Linked DNA regions of Homo sapiens. The protein of the gene in region 1 purifies or fractionates together with the protein of each later gene. This does not show direct contact. Each region holds a gene or a part of one and is shown on either strand. Other genes may lie near its edges.

Evidence for each region.
Region 2: the proteins of RAB27A (region 1) and MYO1C purify together in Homo sapiens (affinity purification with mass spectrometry; one large-scale study listed by BioGRID and IntAct). This does not show direct contact.
Region 3: the proteins of RAB27A (region 1) and MYO19 purify together in Homo sapiens (affinity purification with mass spectrometry; one large-scale study listed by BioGRID and IntAct). This does not show direct contact.
Region 4: the proteins of RAB27A (region 1) and MOCOS purify together in Homo sapiens (affinity purification with mass spectrometry; one large-scale study listed by BioGRID and IntAct). This does not show direct contact.
Region 5: the proteins of RAB27A (region 1) and RETNLB purify together in Homo sapiens (affinity purification with mass spectrometry; one large-scale study listed by BioGRID and IntAct). This does not show direct contact.
Region 6: the proteins of RAB27A (region 1) and CHI3L1 purify together in Homo sapiens (co-immunoprecipitation; one large-scale study listed by IntAct). This does not show direct contact.
Region 7: the proteins of RAB27A (region 1) and GTPBP1 purify together in Homo sapiens (affinity purification with mass spectrometry; one large-scale study listed by BioGRID and IntAct). This does not show direct contact.

The regions. Positions count from the first base shown.
Region 1 is NC_000015.10:55,233,801-55,238,321, forward strand, and holds part of RAB27A (ras-related protein Rab-27A), read right to left. Parts: intron 3,643-4,521; exon of another isoform or gene 2,665-3,642; intron 1,157-2,664; 5' UTR 1,135-1,156; coding exon 982-1,134; intron 1-981. UniProt on the Homo sapiens protein: Small GTPase which cycles between active GTP-bound and inactive GDP-bound states. In its active state, binds to a variety of effector proteins to regulate homeostasis of late endocytic pathway, including endosomal positioning, maturation and secretion.
Region 2 is NC_000017.11:1,478,166-1,482,686, reverse strand, and holds part of MYO1C (unconventional myosin-Ic), read left to right. Parts: intron 1-128; coding exon 129-209; intron 210-1,801; coding exon 1,802-1,981; intron 1,982-2,061; coding exon 2,062-2,160; intron 2,161-2,981; coding exon 2,982-3,095; intron 3,096-3,184; coding exon 3,185-3,256; intron 3,257-3,951; coding exon 3,952-4,071; intron 4,072-4,194; coding exon 4,195-4,277; intron 4,278-4,494; coding exon 4,495-4,521.
Region 3 is NC_000017.11:36,513,828-36,518,348, forward strand, and holds part of MYO19 (unconventional myosin-XIX), read right to left. Parts: intron 2,164-4,521; coding exon 2,031-2,163; intron 1,356-2,030; coding exon 1,286-1,355; intron 722-1,285; coding exon 619-721; intron 1-618. UniProt on the Homo sapiens protein: Actin-based motor molecule with ATPase activity that localizes to the mitochondrion outer membrane. Motor protein that moves towards the plus-end of actin filaments. Required for mitochondrial inheritance during mitosis.
Region 4 is NC_000018.10:36,266,929-36,270,529, reverse strand, and holds part of MOCOS (molybdenum cofactor sulfurase), read right to left. Parts: intron 1,998-3,601; coding exon 1,845-1,997; 3' UTR 1-1,844. UniProt on the Homo sapiens protein: Sulfurates the molybdenum cofactor. Sulfation of molybdenum is essential for xanthine dehydrogenase (XDH) and aldehyde oxidase (ADO) enzymes in which molybdenum cofactor is liganded by 1 oxygen and 1 sulfur atom in active form.
Region 5 is NC_000003.12:108,754,774-108,759,300, forward strand, and holds RETNLB (resistin-like beta isoform 1 precursor), read right to left. Parts: upstream 2,638-4,527; 5' UTR 2,413-2,637; coding exon 2,286-2,412; intron 1,816-2,285; coding exon 1,735-1,815; intron 1,133-1,734; coding exon 1,005-1,132; 3' UTR 865-1,004; downstream 1-864. UniProt on the Homo sapiens protein: Probable hormone.
Region 6 is NC_000001.11:203,178,018-203,181,675, forward strand, and holds the end of CHI3L1 (chitinase-3-like protein 1 precursor), read right to left. Parts: exon of another isoform or gene 3,269-3,658; coding exon 3,145-3,268; intron 2,636-3,144; coding exon 2,453-2,635; intron 1,861-2,452; coding exon 1,744-1,860; coding exon of another isoform or gene 1,569-1,743; coding exon 1,428-1,568; 3' UTR 914-1,427; downstream 1-913. UniProt on the Homo sapiens protein: Carbohydrate-binding lectin with a preference for chitin. Has no chitinase activity. May play a role in tissue remodeling and in the capacity of cells to respond to and cope with changes in their environment.
Region 7 is NC_000022.11:38,715,263-38,719,783, forward strand, and holds part of GTPBP1 (GTP-binding protein 1), read left to right. Parts: intron 1-644; coding exon 645-825; intron 826-1,365; coding exon of another isoform or gene 1,366-1,389; coding exon 1,390-1,738; intron 1,739-4,521. UniProt on the Homo sapiens protein: Promotes degradation of target mRNA species. Plays a role in the regulation of circadian mRNA stability. Binds GTP and has GTPase activity.

The DNA.
Region 1 (4,521 bases):
TTTTGTGAATTATATCTCAACAAATCTATTTTTTAAGTTATACAATAAGTAACCAACAAAAATAATCACATACATATATGTAGATTCTATCAACTACACGTCAATACTAAAAATTTCATTAGGGCCCTACTGTTATTCAGTGGGTCTTAATCTCTATAAGCCTCTCTGGTAGTAGAATAAAATACTAGAATGGGCAAAAGGGAATGTTCTTCTGTCTTAAAAGCCAGGGACCTTTCCCCCTGACAGAATATGATCCATTAAAGGACCTTTGTCATTAATTTCCTGACAACTGGTTTACCTGCTTCAGGCCAACAATGGATTTTTCAACAAGAAATGTAGTCTAAGGAGAAAGCCATCTTTCCTCATCTGCAACTGTGACACCATGACCTTCTGCCTTCCCCTCCAACACTAGAATAACTTTCAGTCTCAAAGTCCTTAAAAAATAAATAAATAAAAGTTTCTCCCTTCAACATTCTGCAGAACATCACATTCACTACTGGCATTCCCCACTCCTACTCCAACCTCACCCTCCTGGCAGCAGTGATAAGTTCTGCCAGTTAGTGTTCCATGTGGAACTGCTGAGACTTTATTAGGAGAAATGCCATTAAAAATAATAAGATACCAAAGGTGGAAGACACAGCCCATAAAACAAGAGTATGAGGGGCAAGGTGGTTGGCAGGCTTCAAGACAAAGGTAGACAAATAACTTTCGGAGTTCAGAGGGAAGATACAAGCCAAAAGAGTACCAAGGTGACATTTTAAAGAACTGTCCACTTCCACTTTGTCTGCCTGGTTTTATATGAAGTGCTGTCAGCACAGCCTTTTCAATCATGTTGCCTGGATTGAACATAACTCACTTTCATATGTACCTTTAATTTCAGATCCCAACCTTTGTCCTCCTAATTCCTACAAAGTAAACTAAACAGACCAGCAAATGTTGACTTAACGATTACATTTTTACATAGAAGGATATAGAACTTACCACTCTTTTTTCCCTGAAATCAATGCCCACTGTTGTGATAAATTTGGAGTTAAATTTACCATCTGTATATTGGTAAAGTACACTGGTCTTCCCTACACCAGAGTCTCCCAAAGCTAAAAACTTGATGAGGTAATCATAATCTCCATCAGACATAATGAAGAACTCAGTAGTTCACCTGTAAAATACACACAAAATTTTTTAATTAAAATCCATTAGAAAACATTAATTATCCATTTAAAAAGTGACAACAATATTCAGTTTAACACCTAATGTTAACCTGTATGTCTACGGGTTGTATGAAAAGAGAGTTACATACATATTGTTCACCATCCTTGAAGACCTAATAACTAGCTAGATGAGAAGCTATTGAAATAGTAATTAACAGTGTAGTTTTAATTTAACACACAGGTAATCCCAGCACTTTGGGAGGCCAAGGTGGGCAGATCACCTAAGGTTGGGAATTCGAGACCAGCCTGACCAACATGGAGAAACCCCATCTCTACTGAAAATACAAAAATTAGCCAGGCATGGTGGTGCATGCCTATAATCCCAGCTACTCAGGAGGCTGAGGCAGGAGAATCACTTGAACCTGGGAGGTGGAGGTTGCAGTGAGCCAAGATTGCGCCATTGCACTCCAGCCTGGGCAACAAGAGCAAAACTCTGTCTCAAAATAAAAAAATAAATAAAAATAAAAATAAAAATAAAAACATACATATTATAGTACCATTAGGACAAAAATTTCAAGTGGGAATGATAATCAACAAGAAGGTAACAGTCACTAAGTCTTATCTGTAGACCATATAGAACAAAAACTAATACAAGAAAAACAGAGGAAAGAGAATGTTATAAGGAATAACAGTAATCATTAGAGTGCAAGTGGTTCCAATTTCCCCTCCTTTTTCAAAGTCTCCTAGTGCTAAAATTTGCAATTGCAAACATAAGGAACCAGTCCAAATGCTCACCAGTCAATGAGTAGATAAAGAAATTGTGGTACACCACAATTTTTTTATCTGTATATATATACACACACCACGGAATACTACTCAGCCACAAAAAGGAACGAAATAATGGCATTCACAGCAATCTGGATGGAATTGAAGACAATTATTCTAAGTGAAGTAAGTCAGGAATGGAAAACCAAACATCATATGTTCTCACTCATATGTAGGAGTGAAGCTATGAGGAAGCAAAGGCATAAGAATGATACAATGGACTTTGGGGACTCGGGTGGAAAGGGTGGGAGGCGGGTGAGGGATAAAAGACTACAGATTGAATACAGTGTACACTGCTTGGGTGATGGGTGCACCAAAATCTCAGAAATCACCACTAAAGAACTTATCCATGTAACTAAACACCACCTGTTCCCCAAAAACCTATGGAAATAAAAAAAAAAGAAAGAAAGAAAGTCTCCTAGTGCTAGAACCTTGCCTTTTCTCTCTTTTTACATGGACATCTAGGCAATTTCATTTATTCTATTCATTTTCACATGTTATTACGGTTCCTTCAAAGACACTGTTATTTCACAAGTAAATTTAGTCCCTGCTTCCTTACATATTACTATTAATATGTACTACATATTAAGCCAGACTTCTCTAGAGTATCACTGCTCACTTGGGAACTGAGTTCCAGATTTGAACAGTCACTGCTCAGAGACCACAGTGCCACAACCAAGGGCTCGCTTACCTATGTTTACCTGGGTACTCTATCAAGAACTGCTAAAAATTCAGCTCTTCAGTACCGACTAAAACAAAAGTCCACCTTAAAGAAGAAAAATTCATTTATATCAGCAATACCTAACCACGGCTATTTTTGGTTCTTTGCAATCAGCACTTTTCATGATTTGTATTTACCTTCTAAATAGATTCAAACCCAAAATATCAGTCCAACTAGAAATGGGATCTCTCTCCAGGGGAGGTTTACTTTTTCATTAAAATTTTATTGATACATAATATTTGTATATTTTTATGGGGTACATGTAATATTTTGTTACATGCATAGAATGTAATGATCACATGAAGGTATTTAGGGTATTTATTTCCTCGAGTATTTATCATTTCTATGCATTGAGAACATTTCAAGTCCTCTCTTCTAGCTATTTTAAAATACACAATACATTTTTGTTAACTATAGTCACCCTAGTCTACTGTTGAACATTAGAACTTATTCTTTCCATCTAACCATATGCTTGTACACATTAACCAACCTCTCTCCGTTTCCCCCGCCAATGCCAATAAACTCTCCTGAAAATCATAAAAACAACTAGCTATCTCATTAACACTGACGACTCTACATGACTATTCAAACATACATATTTATCCATCTATACACATGCCAGATGTCCTACATTGGATGCTACTGACTCCCGGCGTTATCCCCTTTTTACCCAGCACCATATCCAGAAACTTGGCTGCCATATTCAGTGCTTCCTGTAGGACTATTTCTATATATCCATAAAATTAATAAAAACTCAGACAAGAATATTTACTGGTTTTCAGTGTTACCTCCCTCACCCCATCCTCAACTTGGGGACTCACCTTATGCTGAAAACTCCTGAATGCTGAGCCCCAAAAGCCACTGCAGTGTGTTTCCTCAGAGTGCTTCAGTGCAGATCTGCAACCTCACGTTTCAGGTATGGCTAGCCCGTGGATAAGGGCAGAGCCTCTACAAACATTCAAAATTCTATTTGCACACTATAAAGAGTGACACTTCACAGATGATGCCTTACCTGTCTTTATAGCTTGGATATTTGCAAGTATAGGTCACCAGTATTAATGACATATAACAGAATTCCTCTCCAAAAAACGACAACTTGGACATCAACATTATAGCACGTCATATCACAGCATCACACCTGGCTCTAAGTTATTGGAAATAAGAGCTAAGAATTGAAAAGCAAGTCCAGATAATGTTGACTCATTTGAGGGCTTCCCCTCAAACTGAATGGAGCAGCAGATAACAATACCGATCCTGCAGTGAGAATGATGCAAGAAGACACTGTGACTACCTTATTTCCTATTTATTTTTAATTTGAAAAAAAAGTTGGTATAACTATGTTTTTTACATCACTTAGGGTACAGGAAAAAATGCTGTCACCAATGGCATCATATTCTAGAATTCTCTAAACTCACTTAAGTGGAATTCAAAGACTTAAATGAAACTATCTCTAATGTGTTTCATTTCCATGGGTAATCACACATGTAAGTCTACAAATGATCTTCGTGAGTTTTGTTTTCTATTCACAATAGCAATACTGACCAAGTAATCATAAAGGGACTGTTAACAAACCAAATACCATAAATTGAAGGTATAGACACCACCATCAATATTAATCATAGTTTGCACTTTTCAGATTGTATCTTTAAGACAATTATCTGCTTTCTTGATCTGAAAATAAATGTTCAGACCTTCCACTCTCTGGGTTCAGTTTTCTAAAGGGTAAAACAGAACCCAGAGAGGTAGACTGATTTGCACGATCTAGAATCTAGATCTCCTAGCTCCAAGTCCAATGCCTATTCTACCCCAAGCTTCATATCCATTATT
Region 2 (4,521 bases), on another chromosome or scaffold:
GGGAGGGGAGGGGAGGGGCAGGGAGAGAAGCCCAGTGCGGGAGGGGAGGGGCAGCAGTAGCTACAAGGCGGGGTGGGGAGGGCAGGGGGAGAGTGCCAGGTGTCCCTCATACCCCTGTCCACTCCTAGGCCTTTGGAAATGCCAAGACCCTCCGGAACGATAACTCCAGCAGGTTCGGGAAGTACATGGATGTGCAGTTTGACTTCAAGGTACCATGGATGTGTGTGTCGTGAGGATTCCCATTCAGTAGGCTCTACACGTGTGAAGCACCTACTGGGTACCAGGGACTATTCCAGGTGCTGCAATTCCAGCAGTCAAACAAAGCAAACAAAAATCCTGCCTTCCAGGGTGATAAACAATAAACAGGGAAATTGAGGCCGTGGCAGAAAATAAAATGCAGTAAGGAGTGGGGGGCAGGTGCGGTCGTATTAGGGTAGGCCTCACTGAGAAAGTGGCATTTTAATAAAGGCTTGACAGCTGGGTAGGGTGGCACATGTCTGTTGTCCCAGCTCCTCTGGAGGCTGAGGCAGGAGGATCACTTGAGGCCAGGAGTCCAAGGTTACCCTAAGCTATGATCATGCCACTGTACTCCAGCTTGGGCTACGGAGTGAGACCCTGTCTCTAAAAAAAATAGAAAATAATGGCTTGATGGAGATAGGAGCAGGCTGTGCAGGTGCCTGTCCAGGCAGCGGGAACGGAACAGCCAGGACAAAGGCCTGAGATACGAGGGTGCTGGAAGTGTTCCAGGACAGCACGGAGGCCACAGCGGCCAGAGAAGAGAGCAGGGGCCCGCGAACAGAGAGAGGCCAAACGGTGCAGGCCCTTTTGGGTTGTTGCAAGAACTTTTTTTTTTTTTTTTTAACTCTGAGTAGAAGGGGAGTCATCGGGCTGGGTGAGGTGGCTCATGCCTGTAATCTGAGCACTTTGGGAGGTTGGGGCAGGTGGATCACGTGAGGTCGGGAGTTCAAGACCAGCCTGGCCAACATGGTGAAACCCTGCCTCTACTGAAAATACAAAAATTAGCCAGGCACGGTGGTGTGTGCCTGTTGTCCCAGCTACTCAGGAGGCTGAGGCAGGAGAATTGCTTGAACCCGGGAGTTCGAGGGTGCAGTGAACTGTGATTGCACTACTGCACTCCAGCCTGGGTGAAAGCAAGACCCTGTCTCCAAAAATAAAAAATAAAAAAATGACTTTAGCTGCTTCACTGGGAGATTGGGAGTAGACGAATAGATGGGAGGGGAACCAGGCTAAGCAGGGAAAACGGTTAGGGGGCTGATGTCATCATGTAGGTGACAGGTGACATTGGCTCAGACCAGTGTGGTGCAGTGGAAGTGGCGAGCAGTGATTGGATTCTGGATGTTTTAAAGGTTAAGGCAGCAGGATGAGCTGCCTGATTGGATGTAGGGTTTGGAGAAACACAGGCTTCCAGGAGGACTGCCAAGTCCTTGGCTTGAACAACGAGAAGGATGTAGTCACCACTGACCAAGGAGGGCAGACACTAACAGGAGCTTGTTTGAAGAGGGAGAAGGTCCGGTGTTGAGCTTCAGGCCTGTTGAATTTGCGATACCTGTCAGGCATCCAGGTGGAGCAGCCAGGTCGTTGGAGTTGAATCTCCCCATTTCCTAGATGAAGTAACTGAGTCCAGCGTGGGTGGCGTGCCTGAGCCGACGCAGCTAGTGGCAGGGCTGGAATTGGCATCCAGGTCTGGCTGCCAAAGCCCAGGAGTGCAGGGGAGAAGAGGGGCAGGTGGGCTCTTTTCCCAGTCCCCGTGACCCGGCCTCATGCCCTGCCCTGCCCACAGGGTGCCCCCGTGGGTGGCCACATCCTCAGTTACCTCCTGGAAAAGTCACGAGTGGTGCACCAGAATCATGGGGAGCGGAACTTCCACATCTTCTACCAGCTGCTGGAGGGGGGCGAGGAGGAGACTCTTCGCAGGCTGGGCTTGGAACGGAACCCCCAGAGCTACCTGTACCTGGTGAAGGTGAGTGGCTGGCAGGGAGGGCAGGTGCCACCCAGGGATCTGGTGCCAGGGCTGGCAACCCAGCTGTGCCCTTCCTCCAGGGCCAGTGTGCCAAAGTCTCCTCCATCAACGACAAGAGTGACTGGAAGGTCGTCAGGAAGGCTCTGACAGTCATTGATTTCACCGAGGATGAAGTGGAGGTGAGGCCTCTTCCGGGACCCTCGCTTTCCTCCTGTCACACCCCCAAAATCTCCTTTTTTTTTTGTTTTTTATTTTTTGAGACGGAGTTTCATTCTTGTTGCCCAGGCTGGAGTGCAGTGGTGCAATCTCAGCTCACTGCAACCTCCGCCTCCTGGGTTCAAGCAATTCTCCTGCCTCAGCCTCCCGAGTAGCTGGGATTACAGGCGCCCGCCACCACGCCCAGCTAATTTTTTGTAGTTTTAGTAGAGACGGAGTTTCACCATGTTGGCCAGCCTGGTCTCGAACTCCCGACCTCAGGTGATCCGCCTGCCTCAGCCTCTCAAAGTGCTGGGATTACAGGCGTGGGCCAGTAATCCCTTTTTTTTTTTTTTTTTTTTTTTTGAGATGGAGTCTCGCTCTTTCGCCCAGGCTGGAGTGCAGTGGTGCGATCTCAGTTCACTGCAACCTCTGCCTCCAGGTTAAAGTGATTCTCATGCCTCAGCCTCCTGAGTAGTTGGGATTACAGACACCTGCCACCACACCTGGCTAATTTTTGTATTTTTAATAATGATGGGGTTTTGCCATGTTGGCTGGGCTGGTCTCGAACTCCTGACCTCAGATGATCCTCCCGCCTCAGCCTCCCAAAGTGCTGGGATTACAGGCGTCAGCCACCGTGCCCATCCCACCCGCAGAATCACCTTCCACCTTTAACACCCATTCCCACTTCCAGCCCCTTCTCTCCGACACTTCACCACCCACCCCTGCATGGCCATCTGCTAGTTGCCCTCTTGGGGCTCTCTGGCCCCTCTCACCCCCTCCTGCCCCCGGCCTGCTCCCCCAGGACCTGCTGAGCATCGTGGCCAGCGTCCTTCATTTGGGCAACATCCACTTTGCTGCCAACGAGGAGAGCAATGCCCAGGTCACCACCGAGAACCAGCTCAAGTATCTGACCAGGGTGAGTGGGGCGGGCAGAGGGCGACGGGAGGACGGCGGGGGCGGGGGCTGGGGGTGCACCCTCACCGTGTCCTCGCCTGCCCTTGGCAGCTCCTCAGCGTGGAAGGCTCGACGCTGCGAGAAGCCCTGACACACAGGAAGATCATCGCCAAGGGGGAGGAGGTGAGGCCGGGCCCTTGCCCTCGGGTGTGGAGGGGCAGCTGTTCCAAGGCAGCCCCTACTCCCATCACTCCCCTTCGCCTGGTTCCCTCAGCAATGCTGGAGGGATGGAAGGAAGGCTGCTCAGAGAAGCAGAGTGAGAGCCGAGCGCCGTGGCTCACGCCTGTAACCCCAGCACTTGGGGAGGCTGAGGTGGGCAGGTCACCTGAGGTCAGGAGTTCGAGACCATCTTGGCCAACATGGTGAAACCCCATCTACTAAGAATACAAAAATTAGCCGGGCATGGTGGCGGGCGCCTGTAATCCCAGCTACTCGGGAGGCTGAGGCAGGAGAATCGCTTGAACCCGGGAGGTGGAGGTTGCAGTGAGCCGAGATCACGGCAACAGAGCTAGACTCTGTCTCAAAAAAAAGAAGCAGCACAGTGAGCTGGCCAGGGTCACATAGGAAGAGAGTAACAGTCCGGCTAGAACCAGACTCCCACCTCGGGAAGGAGGCCTCCTGTCCCTCTACCACCTTCCCTCTGGGGTGGCCACCTGTCCTCCCTGAGGTCCCACTACCAGCACCCCTCCCCATACTGCAGGCTTGCTGGAGCTGGGAGTGCAGAGTGGTGGCGGCTTCCTGGTCTGCCTGAGCCTGGGAGCAGGTGGGATGCACAGGCTCTGTGGCATTCATCTCCTTGTCTCACGCTGCGTCCACAGCTCCTGAGCCCGCTGAACCTGGAGCAGGCCGCGTACGCACGAGACGCCCTCGCCAAGGCTGTGTACAGCCGCACTTTTACCTGGCTCGTCGGGAAGATCAACAGGTCGCTGGCCTCCAAGGTGAGGGCTCGGTCCACACTGCTCCCAAGGCAGAAGGGAGGGCCGTCGGCGAGGCGGGGGGTGCTGCAGGGTGGGGCTGGCACGCGCAGGGGGCCCACGCCTTCGGTTGAATGACTGCCCTAGGACGTGGAGAGCCCCAGCTGGCGGAGCACCACGGTTCTCGGGCTCCTGGATATTTATGGCTTTGAAGTGTTTCAGCATAACAGGTCGGTGCCATCTTTCCCCCGTCTCTCCTCCCGGTCTCCTGTCCTGCTCCCTCTCTTCTGTCCTCCAGCCTCTCATTCCTGCCCTGTGACTCCCCAGCCAGCCGGGGACTGTCTCTGTGTTTCTCACCTCCTGTGCTCAGGGGCGTCGTCCAGCTTTTCCCCTCTCCTGGTCCTGTGTCCCCACTGAGCCACTGTGGGCTCTTCTCCTTCCTTACAGCTTTGAGCAGTTCTGCATCAATTACTG
Region 3 (4,521 bases), on another chromosome or scaffold:
ATCACAAGGCTCAGAGGTCCCTTCCGAGAGCCCACGGCAGGTATGGGGGCAAAAGATGCCGTAAACATAGCCCTGGATGTCTCCAACCTGATGCAAAAGAACCTTGCTCTAGGGAAACCTGCAGTCTGGTGAAAAAAGGACAACTCCTGCCCAGGGAGTCCGTCGTCTTGACGTGGGAGGCATACCCATCACCTAAGGATGCTCCGATTTTGAGAGAAAGGGAGATATCCTATCCATGCCTTGGGGGACTCCCAGTCCGATGGAAAAGGCACAACTCTAGGGAAGCCCTTGTTCTGTTAGCGACAGATGCCATTCTAGGAGAGCCCTTAAAATGATAAGAGTGACACGGCTTCCACCCTAGAGATACAGTCCCAGCCTCAAGGACCTTCTGGTCTGATGGAGGAGGTAAAACATACTCCCAGGCCACAACTGTGCTGGGAGCCAAGGCGCAGTGTGAGGCAGAAGTGCTGCATGTAAAGTCTGCAGGATAAAGTGGTGGCTCCATCAAAAGCTAGGTGAAGGAACCAGGTATGGAGCATTCTGGGGAGTGGGGGGTTGAAAAACACGGACCCATCCCTGTCTCGCATCTGGGGGGCTGTGGCCCCATTTGGCACAAACCTGATAGAAGATGTGGAAGTTCCTCTCACTGGAAGCCTGGCAGGCCACTCGAGTTTTCTCTAGGAGGTAGGTCTGGACTGCGGCTCCAGTCATTTGCTGAGCCCTGGGACACACACAGGCCAGAGCCCGTTAGTTGCCCATTCATTCCATAGCCATGTCTGGCAATCTGGGTGTGCCAGATTGCCTGCTACCTGGCAACTCCCCGCCAAGCTCTTCCACTTAGCCAATGGGCACTGAGGGGTGGGGACCACTCAGAATGTCCTTGGGTGTCCTGGAATATTCCCCTGCATCTAGCTCAGGTGGGCAGGGCCAAGGCCTCTGCACATCACTTTGCTCTACCCCAAGACAGGAGTCGAAGTCTCAGCCTCAAGCTCAGGGATATGGTCCAAAGAGGTGGCAATTTAGCTTGAAGTCCCTGAGCAAGAGTAAAAGCCAGGAGGAACCCAGGCCTGAATAAGCGCACTGCCCCAGGGTTCCCCAAGGGGAGAGGAGCTATAGTTCTCCAGGTGCAAAGATCACCCTCAGAGCTCACACCTGAGGTAAAGGGCATGCACCAGGAGGAGCAGGGTTTTTGCCCATAGGGGTGGCCCAGGCCAGATACTGCCCCAGCCACTTTCAACCTCCCCAGTCCCATCCTCCCACTAGCCAGGGCAACAGCAGCTATTACCTGTTCAGCTGGAGCTGGATGAACTTCCCAAAGCGACTGCTGTTGTTATTCCTCAGTGTACACGCATTCCCTACAGATCACACCTATGTTTATTTCACTCCCCTGGGTTTGCAGAGTCCTCATAAGCCAAGGTGGCTGCAGGTCTCTGGAGGTCATGTTCCCGTGCTCAAGTCACCTAAAGGCCCCTTTGTTGGTTTTCATGTCATAGGGGACAGGACTAGAAAATGGGCCCTCATGCTTTAGCAAGTGGGATTCAGGGGAGTTAGAAGAAATTCCTGGCAAGAAATTGGAATGAGCAAGCCTAGGCAGTCAGGGACCTTTCTTTGAAGGGAAAGGTCAAAAACAATCAGCTGTCACTACTGACTTTAGACAGGAAGGCACATCTGGGTTCCAGTGCCAACACAAACACTAATCACCTTGTATCCCTTAACAAGTACCCTTCATTGAACCATCAGGAAACTGGATAGAAAGACAGAATTTGGACGAGCTAAGCCACCAGGTCTTCTCCAGCACGACTGTTATGTGTGCCTAGGCTGGAGCGAGGAAGAGGACTGAATGACATGACCTCTGTTAGAATGATGCTAAGGAGTACCAGGGAGAGGTTGGGGATCTGAGGCAGTGAAGGATACACTCATCCTCCACCCCCACCCAAGAGAGGGTCTCAAAGCACTGTCCCTCTCCCTGGAAGGTGGAAAATCCCAGAGGAAATGGGACTGAGATACTGTGCAAAGGAGCCCAAGCTCACCAAAAGCTTCCATGACAGGGTTGGAGTTCAGGATCCTCTGTTCTATCCTCTCTGCAATCTTGTGGCTCTCCCAAGATGCAGGTGAGGTGGCCACCACAGCATAGAACTTCATTAGGCAGCGAGACGTCCATGTCTGTGGCAGAAACAGCCCTGTGGGAGCTGTATCTATGCTCCCGCCCACTTCTGAGCCTGCCTGAGAGAACAGTGCCCACCAGAGCTCTCTTCTCCACCAGTGTGTTGCTGACAAAATGGGTGAAGGCAGAATTCAACCCTGGCCTCAGGCAAGGCACTTCCTCTACCTCTGTTTGTAAAATGGGAGTAGACATCTGTTTCTCTCAGCTCTGTGGCAGACACTGAGCTATCGAGGCTTTCTGTGTATGTTTTTTTTGCAAACTCTGCAAAGGTGTGATTATACAATTGTTTATAAACAATAAAACCAAAGCATAGAAATTTAAAAATTTATTAAAAATCATGCATCTACTCAATGACAGGGCTCCCATTTATACCCAAGCAGTCTAACTTTTTTTTTCCGAGACGGAGTCTCATCTTGCCTCCCAGGCTGGAGTGCAATGGCACAATCTCAACTCTCTGCAACCTCTGCCTCCTGAGTTCAAGCGATTCTCCTGCCTCAGCCTCCCAAGTAGCTAGGATTACAGGCGCACGCCACCACGCCTGGCTAATTTTTTACATCTTTAGTAAAGACGGGGTTTCACCATGTTGGTGAGTCTGGTCTTGAGCTCCTGACCTCGTAATCTGCCCACCTTGGCCTCCCAAAGTGGGATTACAGGTGTGAGCCACCGCACCTGGCCCCAAGCAGTCTAATTTTAATTCATACTCTTGTTCTTAATCAGCTGAAGTGAGGTATACTTTCATTTTAACTTCTAATTGTTTGTGGCTAGGACATAGAAATACACTGTCTTTACATATTGACCTTGTATCCTATCACCTCACTAAACGCTCTACAACTTTTTAGTTGCAGTAAGGTGGCAACTTACTTTGTAGATTCTTTAGATTTTTCTTTGGGATCAGAGATATTTCTATCTTCTGAAAGACTTTATGTAGAACTGGTAACATTTCTTCCTTAAATGTTTGGTAGAATTCACAAGTGAAGCCACCAGGGCCTACAGCTTTCTCTGTGGGAGGGCTTTTAACTATGACTTCAATTTCTTTCAGAAATAGGGGCTATTCAGGTTCTTTTTCTTCTTGTGTGATCTTCAGCAGTTTGCGTTTCTCAAAATATTTCTCCATTTCATCTAAATTGTATAATTTCTTGGCATAAAGTTATTCAAAATATTATCTTAATCTGTAAGATCTATATTGATGTCTACTCCTTCATTCCTGATACTGGTGATTTACATCTTTTTTCTCTTTTTATAAGTCTGACTGGAGAGTTATCATTTTTTTGTTTGTTTGTCTTCTTTAGAGGCAAAGTCTTGCTGTCACCCAGGATGGAGTGCAGTGGCACGATCTCGGCTCACTGCAACCTCTGCCTCCGGGGTTCAAGTGATTCTCCTGCCTCAGCCTCCTGAGGAGCTGGGACTACAGGCGCTCGCCACCATGCCCAGCTAATTTTTGTATTTTTAGTAGAGACGGGCTTTCACCATGTTGGTCAGGCTGGTCTCTAACTTCTGACCTCAGGTGATCCACCCACCTTGGCCTCCCAAAGTGCTGGATTACAGGCGTGAGCCACTGCACCCAGTGAGTTATCATTTTATTCATCTTTTCAGAGAAAAGTCTTTTATTTCATTAATTTTTCTATTTTATTCATCTTTACTTTTTCCCTTCTTCTGCATACTTTGGGTTTATTCTGTTCCCCTCTAGCTTCTTAAGGTATGCCACAGACTGAATTGTGTTCCCCTCAAATTCATATTTTGAAGCCCTCACTCCCAATGTGACTGCATTTGGAGAAGGGATCTTCGGGAGGTAATTAAGATTAAATAAGGTAATGACGCCAGGTGCGGTGGCTCACGCCTGTAATCCCAGCACTTTGGGAGGCTGAGGTGGGTGGATTGCCTGAGTTCAGCAGTTCAAAACCAGCCTTGACCAACATGGTGAAACCCTGTCTCTACTAAAAATACAAAACTTATCTGGGTGTCATGGCATCCACCTGTAATTCCAGCTACTAGGGAGACTGAGGCAGGAGAATCGCTTGAACCCGGGAGGCGCAGGTTGCAGTGAGCTGAGCTCGCACCGTTGCACTCCAGCCTGGGCAACAATAGCGAAACTATCTCAAAAAAAAAAAAAAAGAGGTAATGAAGATGTTGTGCTTTCATTTTAATTTATTAGTTCAAAATATTTTCTAATACCGACTTGGTAATGAAATTTCAGACAAGGCTGGACACAGTGGCTCACGCCTGGAATCCCAGCAATTTGGGAAGCTGAGGCGAGCTGATCACTTGAGGCCAGGAGTTTGATACCAGCCTGGCCACCATAGTGAAACTATAACGTCTCTACTAAAAATACATAGTCTCTACTAAAAATACAAAAATTA
Region 4 (3,601 bases), on another chromosome or scaffold:
TGTTAGCCAGGATGGTCTCGATCTCCTGACCTCATGATCTGCCCACGTCAGCCTCCCAAAGTGCTGGAATTACAGGTGTGAGCCACCGCACCTGGGCAAGTGACCTAATTTTTGTAGAGCATGCCTTCTTACTTGTTTTCCATCATAATTAATATGATGCATTTGTCAGCGGAAGGTCTTGGAAATGGGGCAATGTGCCATCTGGAAAGTTCCCTCCTGCATGAAACTGGCCTGAGTAGGTGGATAAATCCATTACTTTAGGGCATTGTTCTCCTATCAGTTAGCTGATGAGGACAAGTCCACTCATATGATGTGGCAGTGCTGAGTCTTTGAAGAGGTTGCGTTTTTAATAAACAGTTCAAAACAATAAACCCCACCCCACCCCACCTAACTTCATTTGCCTCTTCTTTCGGTGATCTCAGGAACCAGAGTCAGAGTTGTACTTTTTACCCTTAACTCTTCACAGCACGTGAGTGTGCAATCATTAGGCTCCATCTCAACAATCCTTGAGAACAGAGCACACCTCATCTTTCAAATCTCACCTAGTGCTGGGAACAACACAAAGTCCTACAAATGTGATAATGAAACAAACTGACCCTGAATCCCACAGGCTCTGAACAGATACATTAGGGAAGCCTGAGCCTGGAGCCTGCTCTCCAACTGAGCAGCAGGAGAGATGGGGTGGCACAGGCTTTCAAAAGATGCAGTGGGCTGCAGCAGGCAGACATTTGGGGGAGAAGTGACTGGAAAAATACAACCATCCAGGGGGAAGATGATGAAGGGACTGGGTTCACACATGGACAGCAGGCTTCAGAAGGACGCCAGCAGAATGAATGTGGAGTGGATGTACTCACTCTGCATTGCTCCAGAGGACAGGGTAAGACCCCAGGCTGGAAGTCATGCAGAAGCAGATAAGGCACACACAAGCTCCGCACAGGGAGAAACTTCTTAGAAACTCAGCGGGATGGGTAACTTCATTAGAGAATGAGATTTCCTCACTGGACATTTTCATCTGGAGGCTGCAGGAGCAGTGGTCAAAGATGATACAGACAGGATTCCTGAATGCCAAAGTTCCTCCCTCGATAGGATTTGGAGGCTCTCGGGTGATGGACCAACACCATCCTGTGGGCTTGTGGAGGGGAGGATGACAACCTGCATAAGCACAGCCATCACTGAGTGTAACTTCAGGCTCGTGAGCCATCCTCAGTGCATCAACTCAGTGGGGGATGAGGACGGAGGCCAGGGATGGGAAGCAACAGGAAAGGAATTGCTGGCCTGTGCCTTTGCTCAGAATATAAATATTCTGGTAGAAACTCCCCTCAAGGAATGTGGTCACAAGTTACCCTCTGGGCCCCTGAGCATAAACCCACACCATCATGTACATGGGAGGAGAGGAGCACCTTCTCATACCCAGGATCACTGGGCATAGACTCCCTTCCTCACTACAAACGGGTTGGAGAGATCCAAAGATGCTCTCTAAAAACAAAGTAACAATGTGAGAAAATGGCAAAATAGGGACCCGCAGTAAGTTCAATCTTCCCAGTGAACTTCATTAAAAATTTCATCTGATTACAAGTGATTATACTTCAAATACCTACAGGAGCCTCACTGGATGTGGGTGCAGCATTCGTTCCTGAGGCCTCAGAAGTGCTCTCCTGAGCACAGCCAGTGCAAATTTGCAGGGTGAGAAGTCAAAGGCAGAAGGAAGCAGGTGAGAGCATTCCCTGCCTCTAAAGAAAAAGAGCTCTCCTTATTCAAAACATCAAGTTCTACTGAACCAAGTTGCAGATCTTAACAATAATAGAGATCACTGTAAAAGAGAAACTTTATGCTAAAAATTTTTTTTAGGAGGTAACATCCTGGTGTTTCTCAGATGCAGGTAAATCATGACCTTCCACATTCTCTTTCAACACAGGGAGCACCTGAGATCCTACAGACAGGAAACATGGGGAGGATAAATCCAATGATGCATGCATCAGGTACATGCCAAAGTTCACCTGTGAACAAAACAGCAACAACAACAAAAAAGGCTAGATTATTTTAGCAATTAAAATAACTTTGTAAATATTAATGTTTAACTAAAATCAAGTCAGATTTTTAAAGACATATACTGAGACTTGATATCTCCTATCTGTTACACAGTAGAATGCACTGGAACATTAAGAGAATCCTAACTTTAGACCCCAAAGATTCTCATTCTAAGGCATCCTTTCCCTGTGGTCACCCCACACCTCTTTCTTGCTGGGCACATCTCTGTCCCACATGCCCTGAACTTCCTGCAGAAGGACTTTCTTCCTACTCTCAGCTTGTGACCACCATCAGGCCCATTTCCTGTTTGCTGCCTGATGTAAAAGCCTTTTGGGGAAGACAGTGGCAGAACTCTGCATTTTCCTTGAGAAAGAATGATGCAAGTTAATTTTGTCAAATTCTCCTGAATAAGGATGGAAGGTCCAAAATGAAGAGTAGGTAAGTCTGCTCAATGTTAACCATCAATGCAAGTGAACCACTCAGGACCCTTTGGAGGACTTGACATGCTCTCCGATCTGTTAGTTCTTGTGATAACATCTGTTGGACACCCTCATGTTCCAGGCCCCAGGCTAGGGGATTGGGCCAATTCCTCATGATTTGTACAAATGTGGGTGAAAAGTGCAGCCTCTGCACTCTCACTGCAACTGTTCCGTAAATCTAAAATTATTCCAAAATTTAAAAATAAAAGGTTCATCATGCACATGAAAATTGCAGTGATGCTGAGAAACACTATTTTCATGGACCTTAGTATTGTATTTGTGCCTTCTTCTTTCTTCTCCTGGCAACCTGCATGGTGCAGGCTCAAGGTCCCCACACCCCAGACAACACAGCCTGCATTGACAGACATGCTGCTGTAACAGTCAAATGCACTACTCTGCAGGCCATTTCTATCCCATATTGGTAAGAAAACTTACATAAATCAAATGTCTATACTGTGAAACAAAACCCTGGCTTTGAAGAAACACAGGAAACAATGTAGCACATTTTACCATGAATTAACTTGCCAGCTTATTATTGGAAGTAGATACAGTGTTTGCATTATTTCTGTTAATTTTCAAGAATTGTTCTATGTAGCCTGACTGCTTTTCTTGGCTTCCTGGAATTCTTTGAAAACAAAAAGTCCTAACAGAAAGTATAAGCCTGAAAATAAATCTTTCTAAAGAATCAACACATTGGAAGTTCAGTTTCTATAATCTGGAATTCATAACAACACTTTGTTGTTTTAACCCTCAAGAAAATGAATTTCCAGGCTTAATGAATGTATTTCCAGTTTAATGAAATGTACTGACTCTTTCTATGCAGCTACTCTATTCACATTAAGGCACTTTACTCTTCATGAGCTCTCTGTGTTAAAGAAAATAATGATCAAGACAACAGAATTACTTGTTTTTTTTGTACTCCATATCTCTTCAACAAGATTGGAAAGCATAAAAATACATGAAGTAAAACAAAAAAAAGTGAGAACTTGGATGGAAAGGAAAAATAAAATGAAACTACAAACAAGGATAGGTTAATGGCAGCCCAACAGCTTTGGATGGGCAGCAAATCCCCCATTTAAAAAAATAACTCTGTG
Region 5 (4,527 bases), on another chromosome or scaffold:
GAGGATGTGGAGAAATAGGAACACTTTTACACTGTTGGTGGGACTGTAAACTAGTTCAACCATTGTGGAAGTCAGTGTGGCGATTCCTCAGGGATCTAGAACTAGAAATACCATTTGACCCAGCCATCCCATTACTGGGTATATACCCAAAGGACTATAAATCATGCTGCTATAAAGACACATGCACACGTATGTTTATTGCGGCACTATTCACAATAGCAAAGACTTGGAACCAACCCAAATGTCCAACAATGATAGACTGGATTAAGAAAATGTGGCACATATACACCATGGAATACTATGCAGCCATAAAAAATGATGAGTTCATGTCCTTTGTAGGGACATGGATGAAATTGGAAACCATCATTCTCAGTAAACTATCGCAAGAACAAAAAACCAAACACCGCATATTCTCACTCATAGGTGGGAATTGAACAATGAGATCACGTGGACACAGGAAGGGGAATATCACACTCTGGGGACTGTGGTGGGGTCGGGGGATGGGGGAGGGATAGCATTGGGAGATATACCTAATGCTAGATGACACGTTAGTGGGTGCAGCGCACCAGCATGGCACATGTATACATATGTAACTAACCTGCACAATGTGCACATGTACCCTAAAACTTAGAGTATAATAAAAAAAAAAAAAATGAAAAAAAAGAAAAAAATAAATAAATAAATAAATAAAAATGAGGGAAGTGGGGGTTTGGAGTGTCAGTTTGTTTTTCCCATTCTTCCCATATCTTTCCTAACTTCCCATCCCACTTCCCAAACTGAGATGTCACCACTGGGACACTGACAACATTTTCTGGATAGGGGAGCCCCAAGCTGGGGACAATAACAGAGATGACATAAGCACAGAGAGGTACAAAGTTTGTCTTTATTACCCAAGAATCAGGAATGGAACAAATGAAGTGGGACGTTTGAGTTAGATTTCTTGGTTGGGACCCTGGTTTCATTACTGTCATGGTCACAAAACTGAGTTCTCAGCCTCCTCCCTGTCAGGTCAGGTGGCAGCAGCGGGCAGTGGTCCAGTCCACCACACTGCACTGGCAGTGGCAGGTGGTTTCCAGCTGAACATCCCACGAACCACAGCCATAGCCACAAGCACAGCCAGTGACAGCCATCCCTGCATGAGCACATGAAGCACAGACATCAGAGCTCTTGGAATTTAAGAGGAGGAAGGGCTACCCACAACCATCTTTCAACCCTGTGCAGTCAGGGGTAGAGCTAGGTTTCGTGGGGCCTCAAGCTCATTCAATTTTGCGAGCTCATTTCAAGAAAAGAAATACAGAAATCACAGAAACAAATATTTGCTGCCATGAAAGAGACTCATGCAAGTGAGAGACTTGGAACTTGGGAGTTTCAGTTTTCTTCGATTTGTGATAAATTCACCTCTCTGTTGGCCCCTACCCATCAAAACAGAGGAATAGATTGGAAAGAGAAATGAAGTATGTGATCATTATGGGACAATGGAGGAGAGGAAGGGCTGAGAAACAGGGGCATGAAGTGAAGGGGTGAAAGGAAGAGGCAGAAGCCCAAGATCCCCCAGTAGCATCCTTCAGGGAAACAAGAATGGGCAAGGGGTCTCTGGGAACCAAGAGTCATGACTCAGCCCCAGGGTGCCAGGGTGATACAGACCTGACATGGGGGAAGACGTAGGTGCAGGGAGATGGACAGGGGAGGATACAGGGCATCGTAGTCGCCATTCCCTCTCAGGGAGTTACTCACCAGCAGGGCAGGAGGACGGTCTGCCTTGGCTTTTGACACTAGCACACGAGAGCTTCTTGCTTATAGGAGAGGGACTGTACTCTGAGTAGGAAAGAAGAAAGGGTACATCCCATGAGCTATCCTCCCCATAATCCCCTTATCCCCTTCCAAATTGTCTTCTACCTTGGAGGTGACACTGTGTCCAGAATCAGCCTACTCATCAGCTTTTAAGGTTAGTTTCCTCATTTTTAAAGCAGAAGTAATAGTTGTCCTTACCTCATAAAATGGTTGTGGGAATTAAATGAAATAATCTACGTAAAACTTGGATTATACCTGGTTCATAATGAGTGTTCATAAATTACAGCTACCATTCTCCTCCACCTCTTCCTCCTCATCAGGAAAACCTCAGCTTTTAGCCAAGACTTCAAACACGGGTAGGGTAGTGTAGAAAGCCCTCATCAGGGGTTGGGCTTGGTTGGGATCTTGGGATGGGATAGAGACAAAGCTAGAGTTTAAGAACAGGAGAAATGAGCAAGGGTCAACCCCCCGCTTCCCCTACCCCAGTCAGTTACCTAGACTGTTGAGAACATCCTTGATCTTCTTATCCATAACGGAGTCTAAGGAACACTGAGTACTCCCCGGGTTGATCAGCTGGAGAAGGGGGATTAGGATGAGAAGGAGGCAAGAGGACGGCCCCATCCTGTACAGAGTCAGTGTCCTGGGGCTGGGAGAAAAGATGGAAAGCAGCTTAGATCTCTGAGCTCCTGGGTGGTGGTGAAGGAAAGAAGACAACGTGGTTAGTTTCCAGGGAGTAAAGATGGAAGAACAGCGTCATCAGTACTGGATCTCTTTAGGCAGTTTGGAGAAGCAGGTAGGGTTGCTGAAGAACAGATTTATTCACCAAAACATTCAGAGAAGGTCTACAAGGACTAGCCAGGCAAGGGCGTTTTAATACACCTGGTATTAACCTGGGCACCTTTAACATACAAGCACACACAAACATGTAAACACACTCCCAGCACACTTTCAAAGACCTGTGCCAGCTAGGGTAACAGGTGACTGTGATAAACTTTGGAGTGTTCATGAGAAGCAACAGCTGCCTTTGCTCTGGATCTCTGCCAAGGGAGTCCTCCTGCCTTTTTGTTCTCCTTCTCCTTTCTTCTTGGCAACCCGATAAGGCTAGCACCTGGGCCTTCTGTGGTCTGCCGGTATTATAGGCTTCTTGTTTGATCCTTCATCAGGAAGAGGTTACTTTGCAGTTAACAAACAAATTAATCCACCCATCATCTATCCCAAACCCAAGTGTATGCTCTTTCTTATCTCTGTTGGCTGAGGGAGGGCCCTACTTGTCACCTGTTCAGACACCATTTTATTGTCCCTGGCCAATCTCATTTGGAGGAAAGTCACAGAAAGACTAATTAATCCTGGATTAAAAATAAGGAAGTTCAGTATTTACTTAACTAGAAGCATGGTTTATGATTCCAGAGTTCTTTTGGGGGCTCATAAAGTTTCCCTTTTTCCCCCACCATTCTCAGCTAATCTTTCGATCTTGTCTCCTCATGGTCACAAGGTAGAAGGTGCCACATCCTCAGCCCAGACCCTGAGCAGGAAGGAAGGAGTGGGGCAAGGCCACTTTCTGTAGGGGCTTTACCTTTTTATTTTAAGAGCAAGATCTTTCTCTAGAAGCTCAAGAAGATTTCCCCTTACATTCCACTGTTTGGTTCTGGGTCACACAACCTCCCTTTCTATCAGCTATGGCTGAAAAAGAGAGCTGGGCTTCACAATTCCTTATCCAAGACCTGGGGCCCAGGTATGTTTCAGAACTCAGAATGTTTCAGATTATGGAAGGTGCAAATTCTGTATATTATGTTAAACCACCAAGGAGGTTGGGGGCAGCACTCTGCAGTCTAATGCATAAATAGCCTGATGCAAAATGTATGAATATTAATGTGGGATAAATAAAAGACCATAAAGAGCCTCACACCAGGCCATGCCAAGTTTTTCTGCCAAATGAGTTAGCCTCAAATTTAGGACAGAACATTTTCATCTTTAGAGCCTTTTAGATTTTAGAATAATGGATAAGGGATTGAGGACTTTGAGGATTCACATATGGCCAAGAGGAATGAGGATGCCATGATTCCTCATCTAGGATGGGGCATGTGGCCACCATGAATAAATAAAATTTAAAGAAGTGCAGATGAAGAAGCAGAGAAAGGGGCCATGTGTTGTGGCTCATGCCCATAATTCCAATACTTTGATAGGCTGAGGCAGGAGGGTCTCTTGAGCACAAGAGTTCAAGACCAGCCTGGGCAACATAGTGAGACTCTATCAAAAAAAAAAAATTTACTGGGAGTGGTACCATGCATTTGTGGTCCCGGCTACTTAGGAGACTGAGGCAGGAGGATCACTTGAGCCTCAAGGTTGCAGTGAGCTGAGATTGTTTCACTGCACTCCAGCCTGGATGACAAAGCAAGACCTTGCCTCAAAAATAAATAAAATAAAATAAAATAAAATGAGAAGCAGAAAAAGGCAGTTAGGTGACTATTCCTTGAGGCAGTCAGAGCTGGAAAGGCTGGGCTCTACCTCTGTGACCAGCCTTTCTGCCCACTTTCCTGGAGATGCCCTCTAATGAACAGCTATTACTTATACATATCTCTCTCAGGCAACTTTGAGAAATGAGGCCTGGAGATGCCAGCAAAAAGGCAAGGATGCTTCCTCAATTACCAGACAGGAGTTGAAGAGAAGAAAAATGAGACTGGAGAATAAGAAAGAGCATACACTTGGATTTGGGATACATGATGGGTTGATTAATTG
Region 6 (3,658 bases), on another chromosome or scaffold:
AACCATCAGGCCAATTTGTGATTATCCTAAGTCACAGATAATCCAAACATCAGAGAATCCACAAATCAATTCTCTTTAGTTCTGGGGTGAGTATCTGGAGCCTTTTTGGATAAAGGCATTCCTGGGGCCCTGGGAATTCAACAGAAGCCTGATGAGAGCGTCTCCACCTCATAAAGGCTGAAAATCTGTCTATTCTTCTGAGTCACCCCATCACATCCTCCCGACCTCCTATCTCAGGCCAGCTTGAGCAGAGGTACTTTGATCTCTGAATGGGTGGAGGGATGAGTGTTAGGGGAGGGGTGAACAGAACAAAGGGCTAAGCCCAGCACTAGGACTATTGACAGATTTCAGCCCAGCCACGGAATGGGTTGCTTCCAAGGTAATCGGCTGCCCCTCACTGGGAGGCTGGAGGGCCATCTCTCAAGCACTCTGCAGGGACTCCAGTCCCGAGAGGCAGGAAGGGTGCATGAGATGACATCTGCATTTCCTGCTGGCCCTGAGGGTCCAGGGTTCAGGGCTTTCTAACCTGGTCCTGTGATGAGCTCCCACCACCTTCCTGTGGATCAGAAGAGAGGGAGTGTTGGGATGAAAAGCCTTCTTTCCCAGGGCCTGCTAGCCTTCAGGAAACAGAAAACGTTTCTTTCAACAGGGAATTTAATTTAGAAATCTGGATGGCAATGACTTTAATATTTGGAAGGCCATCAGCCATGCTTGGGTTAAGTCCAAGGCAGGTGAATCTGAGGACGCTGGCCTCCCACTGGGGCTCTCTGCGGCTAGGCAGAGGACATGGCGGCCTCATCTCTGCAAGCTCAGGGGTCCCAAGGCTCAGAGGAAGGAACCCAGAAGAGATGGGGGAGGTGAGTCCAGTGGGTCTAGTGGGCGCTCAAAGATAGACCAAAGCAAAGCGCCAACACACTGTTAAGCTCTTGTACTTTATTGAGCAGCTGTGGAATTAGGAAGGGGAAGTAGGATAGGGGACACGATTACGTTCCTAAGTGAAGGTTTCAAGCTGGGCTTTGCAGGGGGTATAATTAGTATGGTCACTGTGTCTTGTAGGATGTTTGGCTCCTTGGTGATAGAGCTTGCCAAAATGGTGTCCTTTGATAAGGAGGGCTGGGGGGCAGGGAGTTGAAGAAATTCCCTTGCCAGGCTTGGGGATCTGTAAACATTTCCATTAATCAACAAGTGTGTACTAATCCCGAGTCTTACATTGCGATGCCTCACTATCCCCACAGCCCCATCCCTACCTCTCTGCCCACCAGGGCTGAGCTCAAATCTGTGTGTTGTGGACCTCTGCATAGGCCCCAAGGGAGGGAGACTGAGGCTCAGCCTGGGACTCAGCAGGGCAGGTGATCAGGCTCCCGGCCAGCTGGAGCCAGAGGGGGACGGGGCATCCTTGGCCCCCGTGCTGTGTGCAGAACAGAGGGCTACGTTGCAGCGAGTGCATCCTTGATGGCATTGGTGAGAGGGAAGCGCAGATCCTGGCCACAGAAGGAGCCCTGGAAGTCATCCAGGTCCAGGGCCCATACCATGGCGCCCGCCAGCTGCCTGTCCTTCAGGTACTGCACCTGGCAGGGGAGGCCCAGAGGAGCAGGGCTGGGTTCCCTGACCCAGAGTGTGTACAGGGCACATGTGCTCTGTGAGCCCAGCCCAGACCTCAGTGCAAGGGACAGGAATCTGGCTGCTGGGAGCGGGGCCTCCTTCTTTCTCTTTGTCCTGAGGTGTGGCCTTGGGGAAACCTACCTTGCTTTTGACGCTTTCCTGGTCGTCGTATCCTACCCACTGGTTGCCCTTGGTGGCATAGGGGACCTGCTGGCCGAGGATTCTATGGACTGTGGCTCCGCGGAGGAAGTCACAGATCTGAGCAGATAACAGGGAAAAGGCAGTGTGGGGAGTCGTGCCGAGACCTTGCAGGTCACCAGGAGACGCCACTCTCCAAATCTCTTTTAGCTCCTGCTCCATCCTGCAGCCTCACTCTCTGCAGGGTCTGCAGGCTGCATGCATCACACAAGTTTATACAAACCAGAGGCAAATGACCCAGAGATGGTGGCTGCCTTGGCCCTGCTTAGCTTCTTCCATTTAAACAGAGATGTGAGGCCTGCTGGTTGACACTGAGGACAGGCCCAAGGCCACACAGAGTAGCAGAGGCTAGAGTGAAACAAAAAATCTGCCTCTTGACCTCTGCTCTTTCCTGGGCTGGAAGGAAGACCTCAGCCCCATAGCCAGAGGGCTATCCCAGGTGCCTAGTGGTGCAGGCCCATGTGCCTGTACCTGCTGGAGATTTTCAGCAACAAATGTCCTAACCTCTCCCTTCCACTTCCTCAGGCATGCTGGGGCAACCGGACATTTTCTTTATTCCCAAAGGAGAAAAAGCAAGAACGTGGTGGGGAATCACCTTCCCCAGGGCTGCTGGTGGTGTGGGGGAATCCTACCTTCTCCCCAACTCCATTACCTCATAGTAGGCAAGGGTCCCTGCCTCCTTGGTGAACCGGCCTGGAATTCCCGGTCCTGAGATTGGGGCTCCAACACCAGTCTCAGAAGAAGCCAGAGTGAAGCTCCTCCCGAAGGTGGGGATGCCCATCACCAGCTTACTGGCAGGAGCCCCCAGCCTCAACATGTACCCCACAGCATAGTCCTGGGTGGGGTAGGGTGGGAACAACGTGAGCAGTTAGTGCACAGGTGCGGAAGGTTGAGCAATTAATACTGCTGCCTTAGCAGGGGTTATTGGTGTATGGTGCACTGGGGATTCCCCTGTCCCTCCGGGAACGGATCATGTCACTTTAAAGTGAATTTTACAGTTTCATTCTTGAAAAAAATCCTTTGAGGCATAGGAAGGGGCTATTACTATTTGACAGATGCAGAAATCAGGTGGTTGGCTCTGAGGGCACAATGACTCCTACCTCCTCGGCTCCCAGCCTCTCCCCATTCGGCCCCCTGCCCTCACTCCATTTACCCTGCAGATCACCTTCCCAGAGCAACGCAGCATGCCCAGACTTTGGGCCTCAGTTTCCTTATCTGTGGAATGGGCCTCATGACCCCCCTCTTGCAGGACTGTACTGAGGGCTAGAGAGATTGGTGTGTGAGCACTGGCAGATGGCAGGTCTTGCGGCCCCCTCCTGGCCCTCCCTCCTTCTGGGAACTCACAGTGTTGCTGAATCTGTCAGGACTTGCATCCTCCTGACCTCGGAACAGGGGACTGTGATGGCCTGTGGTCCCACGCCAGGCTCCATGAAAATCGTAGGTCATGATGCTAATGAAATCCAGGTGTCTGAGGAGGAAGGGGATGGAGGGTGAGGCAGGAAATTATTAATAGAAAAGCTTTAGGCCGGGCGTGGTGGCTCATACCTGGAATCCCAGCACTTTGGGAGGCCGAGGCAGGTGGATCATGAGGTGAGGAGTTCAAGACCAGCCTGGCCAAGATGGTGAAACCCCGTCTCTACTCTAACTACGAAAATTAGCCAGGCATGGTGGCAGGCACCTGTAATCCCAGCTACTCGGGAGGCTGAGGCAGGAGAATCGCTTGAACCCAGGCGGCAGAGGTTGTGCCACTGCACTCCGGCCTGGGCAACAGAGTGAGATTTTGTCTCAAAAAAAAGTAAGAAAGAAAAGCTTTTGGGCTCCTATTTAAGGCTCCAGCAGGATGTGAACGAGGGAAGCA
Region 7 (4,521 bases), on another chromosome or scaffold:
GGTGTGTCGCTGCTGTCCGTCTGTTGTGCTGCTTCCACCTCTCATGTAGTCTCCCGACACTCCATGTCACCCATGCTGCTCCTCAACACACTGAGCTGCTTCCTGGTCCCTGAACTTGCCATGATCTGCCACGCCACGCTTTGTTCCTCTGGCTAGGATGTCCTTCCTCCTTCTGCAGGCCCAGCACTTGTTGACCTAGCTTGGCATCAGCCCTTTGCAGAACTGTCCTCGGCTTCCCCAGGCAGTGCTTTATGTTCTCTTCACACAGTCCTAGAGTGCAGCACTTGAGCTGTATTGCAATTAATTAATTTCCTGTCTGCCTCCCCCACTGGGCTGTGAGCTCACTAGGGGCACCTGTAGTCCTAGTACCCAGCATGAGGCTTGGCATAAAACCTGGGAGAGCCTCGGTGGCTGTTGTTGAATGAAGTAGCGAATGCTCTGCTTGATGGAGAGGTCTGTGGCACTGTCATGTTTTAACTTGGTGTGTGCCCAGGTTTTCTCTCAGGTAGAGAGGACCCCTGTTCCTCTGCAGTGCTGGGGTCGGGGGGTGGTGGCCTTTGTTAGGTGGGGTTCCTGGCTGGCTGGTTGGCAGGCTGGTTGGTCAGGACTCCCTCTCCTGCTGATGTCTGGGCTCTTGTCACCAGATGGGACTGAGTATGGGCTGAGTGAAGCTGACATGGAGGCCTCCTACGCCACAGTGAAGAGCATGGCGGAACAGATAGAGGCCGATGTCATCCTTCTGCGGGAACGGCAAGAAGCTGGGGGCCGCGTGCGTGATTACCTGGTCCGGAAACGAGTAGGAGACAATGACTTCCTGGAGGTCAGGTGAGGAGGCCGCGGGACATTTTGGGGTCCCCATTCTTCACAGAGGTTGGTGACTGAGCCTGTGGCACTTGGCGTGTCAGCTCCATCCTTTCCCCTCCTGAGGCGGGGAAAGAGTGTCCAGGTGTCTGGAGACGTGGGCTCCTTGCTCTAATTCTGCACTTCCCTGTCACTTTGGGAAGAGCACGAGAGAGGCCAGCCGTGCATTCTGTGGCCATTCTCTGTGGGTGTGTTTCTTTTCCCTTCAGCCTGTGAGCCTGGAAACCAGGGTCATGGAGAAGAGCCTTTTGTGCCTCTGGTAGCCTTGCGGCTCTTCCTGGCAGCACCCAGAAGCTAGTGGGAGTTAAGGGAGATAGCCGCTGTGGGAGTCTGGGCCCTTCTGATGACTCTACAGCAGCAGCTCTAGGAACCTTCCCACTGTGCTCCTCCGGCTCAAGGAGGAGCTGTGAGCCGGAGGGGATCGGGGCAAGCCTGGACTTGCGGATCCAATTACTGGGGTTATGATGGTCGCTCCACCTCACTCATTCACTAACTCTCACATAGATGTATGGGTTCATCTACACGCAGGGTAGCAGTGGTGGGCAACGTGGATGCTGGCAAAAGCACGCTTCTGGGGGTCCTGACACATGGGGAGCTGGACAATGGCCGAGGCTTTGCCCGCCAGAAACTCTTCCGCCACAAACATGAAATTGAATCTGGTCGCACCAGCAGTGTGGGCAACGACATTCTGGGCTTTGACAGTGAAGGCAATGTAGTGAACAAGCCTGACAGCCACGGCGGCAGCCTGGAGTGGACCAAGATCTGTGAGAAGTCCACGAAAGTCATTACCTTCATCGACTTGGCTGGTCATGAGAAGTACCTGAAAACCACTGTCTTCGGCATGACAGGCCATCTGCCTGACTTCTGCATGCTCATGGTGAGTGGGAGGCGCCCCAAGGAGGGGAGGCGTCAGCAGGGCTGCTTGGGTCTGGTTATGTGCAAGTCTGAAACTGTTCTGAGACTGAGGCCTGTTGGTTTGGGGCTTTGACATCGGGTGAGGCTGGCGAGTTTTGCAGGGGTGCCCAGTCCTCTGAGTAATGGTCTTCTCAAGGCTTGAACCTTGATCTCTCCCTTACATTAGACTAGGGAAGGTATCCTCTTGGTAAAAACCAGGTACCCTTGAAGACCTGTCTTATTTTTTGCAGAGGCATAGAGGAGGGTTTCTCCTGGGCCTTACTTGTTACCTTCAGAAATGTTTTCTGCAGAGGATTGGGCTACTTTGAGGAGGTGACACCAGGTAGGTAGTACCTTCAGAGGGGCAGGCCTGGGGAAGAAACGGAGAAGACAGCCATAGGAGGCACAGGCCACAGTCGAGAGGCCCTGAGAGGTGGCCTCCTGGAGCCTGGGAGGAGGATCGGCCAGTGCACAGCCCTTGTTGAGAGGCTCCTGTGTGTCTGGTACTATGTGAGGTCTGATGATACAGCAATGAACAGGGCTGTCCAGAGGCTCCCAAAAAGCTTAGGGTCGAGCGTGATTAAATTTTTAAGCAGCTATTCCTGCTCGGAACATTAAAAACAACCAAAAAGTGTTTAAGCAGCTCATCTAATAGATTAACTGAGAAAGAAAGGGAGCAGAGGGCTCTGTGTTGGATCTCATTGCTAAGCTTGCCTTTGTGACCCACTGATCTTCCTCCCTGGACAGACAGTGGGAGTGCTGAGGGGAGCGGCAAGGCCTGTAACCTTGTGCACATCTCCACAGCTTTCACAGCAGGAGTAAGGAAGAGGGAGGGCGGGAAGGGACAGAGTCAGAGACACACATGCCTCGAGTGTTCCCTCGGCAAGGCCTTCCCAAAACCCTTCCCCATTTCTCGATTCCTTCAGCTGCCTGTATTAATAAATGTAGTAAACATAAGCATCTGTTCATAGCAAACTTGATCAAGTTGCTGCACAAACACAGGTTCTCAAGCAAATTCTCCCTAAACTGGAGAGCAGTAAAGAGAGGCAGAGCCGTGTGAACACTCGTAGGCTCTCTGCCTGAGGCTTTTGGGACCTCAGCATGCCTTCATTTCCCATTTCCTTCAATGTTGCAAAGGGCCATGACCAGCTTCTTGACTGGGCTGAGGAAAGCTGCTTGCCAGGAAGGGATCTTAGTGGAAGATCCAGAGGGCGTATTTAGGGGAGTTGTTGGGTTGATATTAAGAAGGGTATAGAAACTGGTTGAGAATAAGCATTTTTCCAGCTGAGCTACAGTGAGTAAGACCAATTAATGGAAATATCTTCACCCTGGACAAAATGTTACATATATATTATCTGACTTTTTGGTTGTGATCCAAATGTTAACCTTTCTGTAGAAAACAATGAAATATTTCATTATAGTCCCATGGCATTTGACTTCTAGGAAAAAATATTTAAAATATATAGAAAACAGCCGTAGAGCACTCTCTTCTCCAGGTTGGGAAGAGCAAAAGCAAGTCTGCATTGGGTTGGAAAGGTGGCCGAAGGGCACAGGAAGACGTCGGGAAGACTGTGGAAGTGTCCTGGTGGAGGGAGAGGGAAGTGCCAGCTGGGGTGACTCATCTAGGAGCCATGGAAACTCAGTGGGCGTCTCCGTGACACACTGGAATGGATAGGGCACTGTGTAAACACATCATGGCAGCTTTTCTTTCAAATTTTCTTCTGGTTTAGTATGGTACAAAATTGTGAAAAGTTTCCTCCCAGAGGCAACCAGTGTTTCCAGTTTCCTGTGTACCTGCCAGAGATATTTTGTACTCAGATCAGCAAATGTGTATATGTTCTCTCCCTCCAATTTTAAACATTCAGAAAAGGTGAAAGAATAGTATAACCAATACCATAAATCCACCACTTAGATTTAGCAATCATTAACATTTTGCCATATTTATGTGTCTATATGGTGGGTACATATGTGTATATATGTTTTTTATTTATTTTAATTTTTTTTTTGAGATGGAGTCTTGCTCTTTCGCCCAGACTGGAGTGCAGTTGTGCAATCTCAGTTCACTTCAGCCTCCGCCTCTTGGGTTCAAATGATTCTCCTGTCTCAGCTTCCCGAGTAGCTGGGATTACAGGCACGTGCCACCACACCCAGCTAATTTTTAGTATTTTTAGTAGAGACGAGGTTTCACTATGTTGGCTAGGCTGGTCTGGAACTCCTGACCTCCAGCAATCTGCCCACCTTGGCCTCCCAAAGTGCTGAGATTATAGGCGTGAGCCACCGTACCCAGCCTGATTTAATATTTTTTAAAGAGACAAAGCCTCACTCTGTTACCCAGGCTAGAGTGCGGTGGTGCGACTGTAGTTCACTATAACCTCAAACTCCTGGGCTCAAGGGATCCTCCCATCTCAGCCTCCCAAGTACCTAGGACCACAGGCGTGCACAACCATGCCTGGCTAATACTAATTTTTTTAGAGACGAGATCTTGCTATGTTGCCAAGGCTGGTCTCAAAACTCTTGGCTTGAAGTAATCATCCCACCTTGGTGCCTCCCAAGGTGCTGGGATTACAGGTGTGAGCCACCGTGCCCAGCCAAGTATATATGTTTAGTTTGGTTTTTTTTTTTTGTGGCTGAATCACTTAAAAATAGTGGACATGTCTTCATCCCAGACAAAGTCACAATGTAGACATTGTGACTTTTCACTGCTAAACACTTCAGCATACAGCTCCTAAAAGTGAGGCCTGTCTCCTACTGTTTTTACAATCAAGA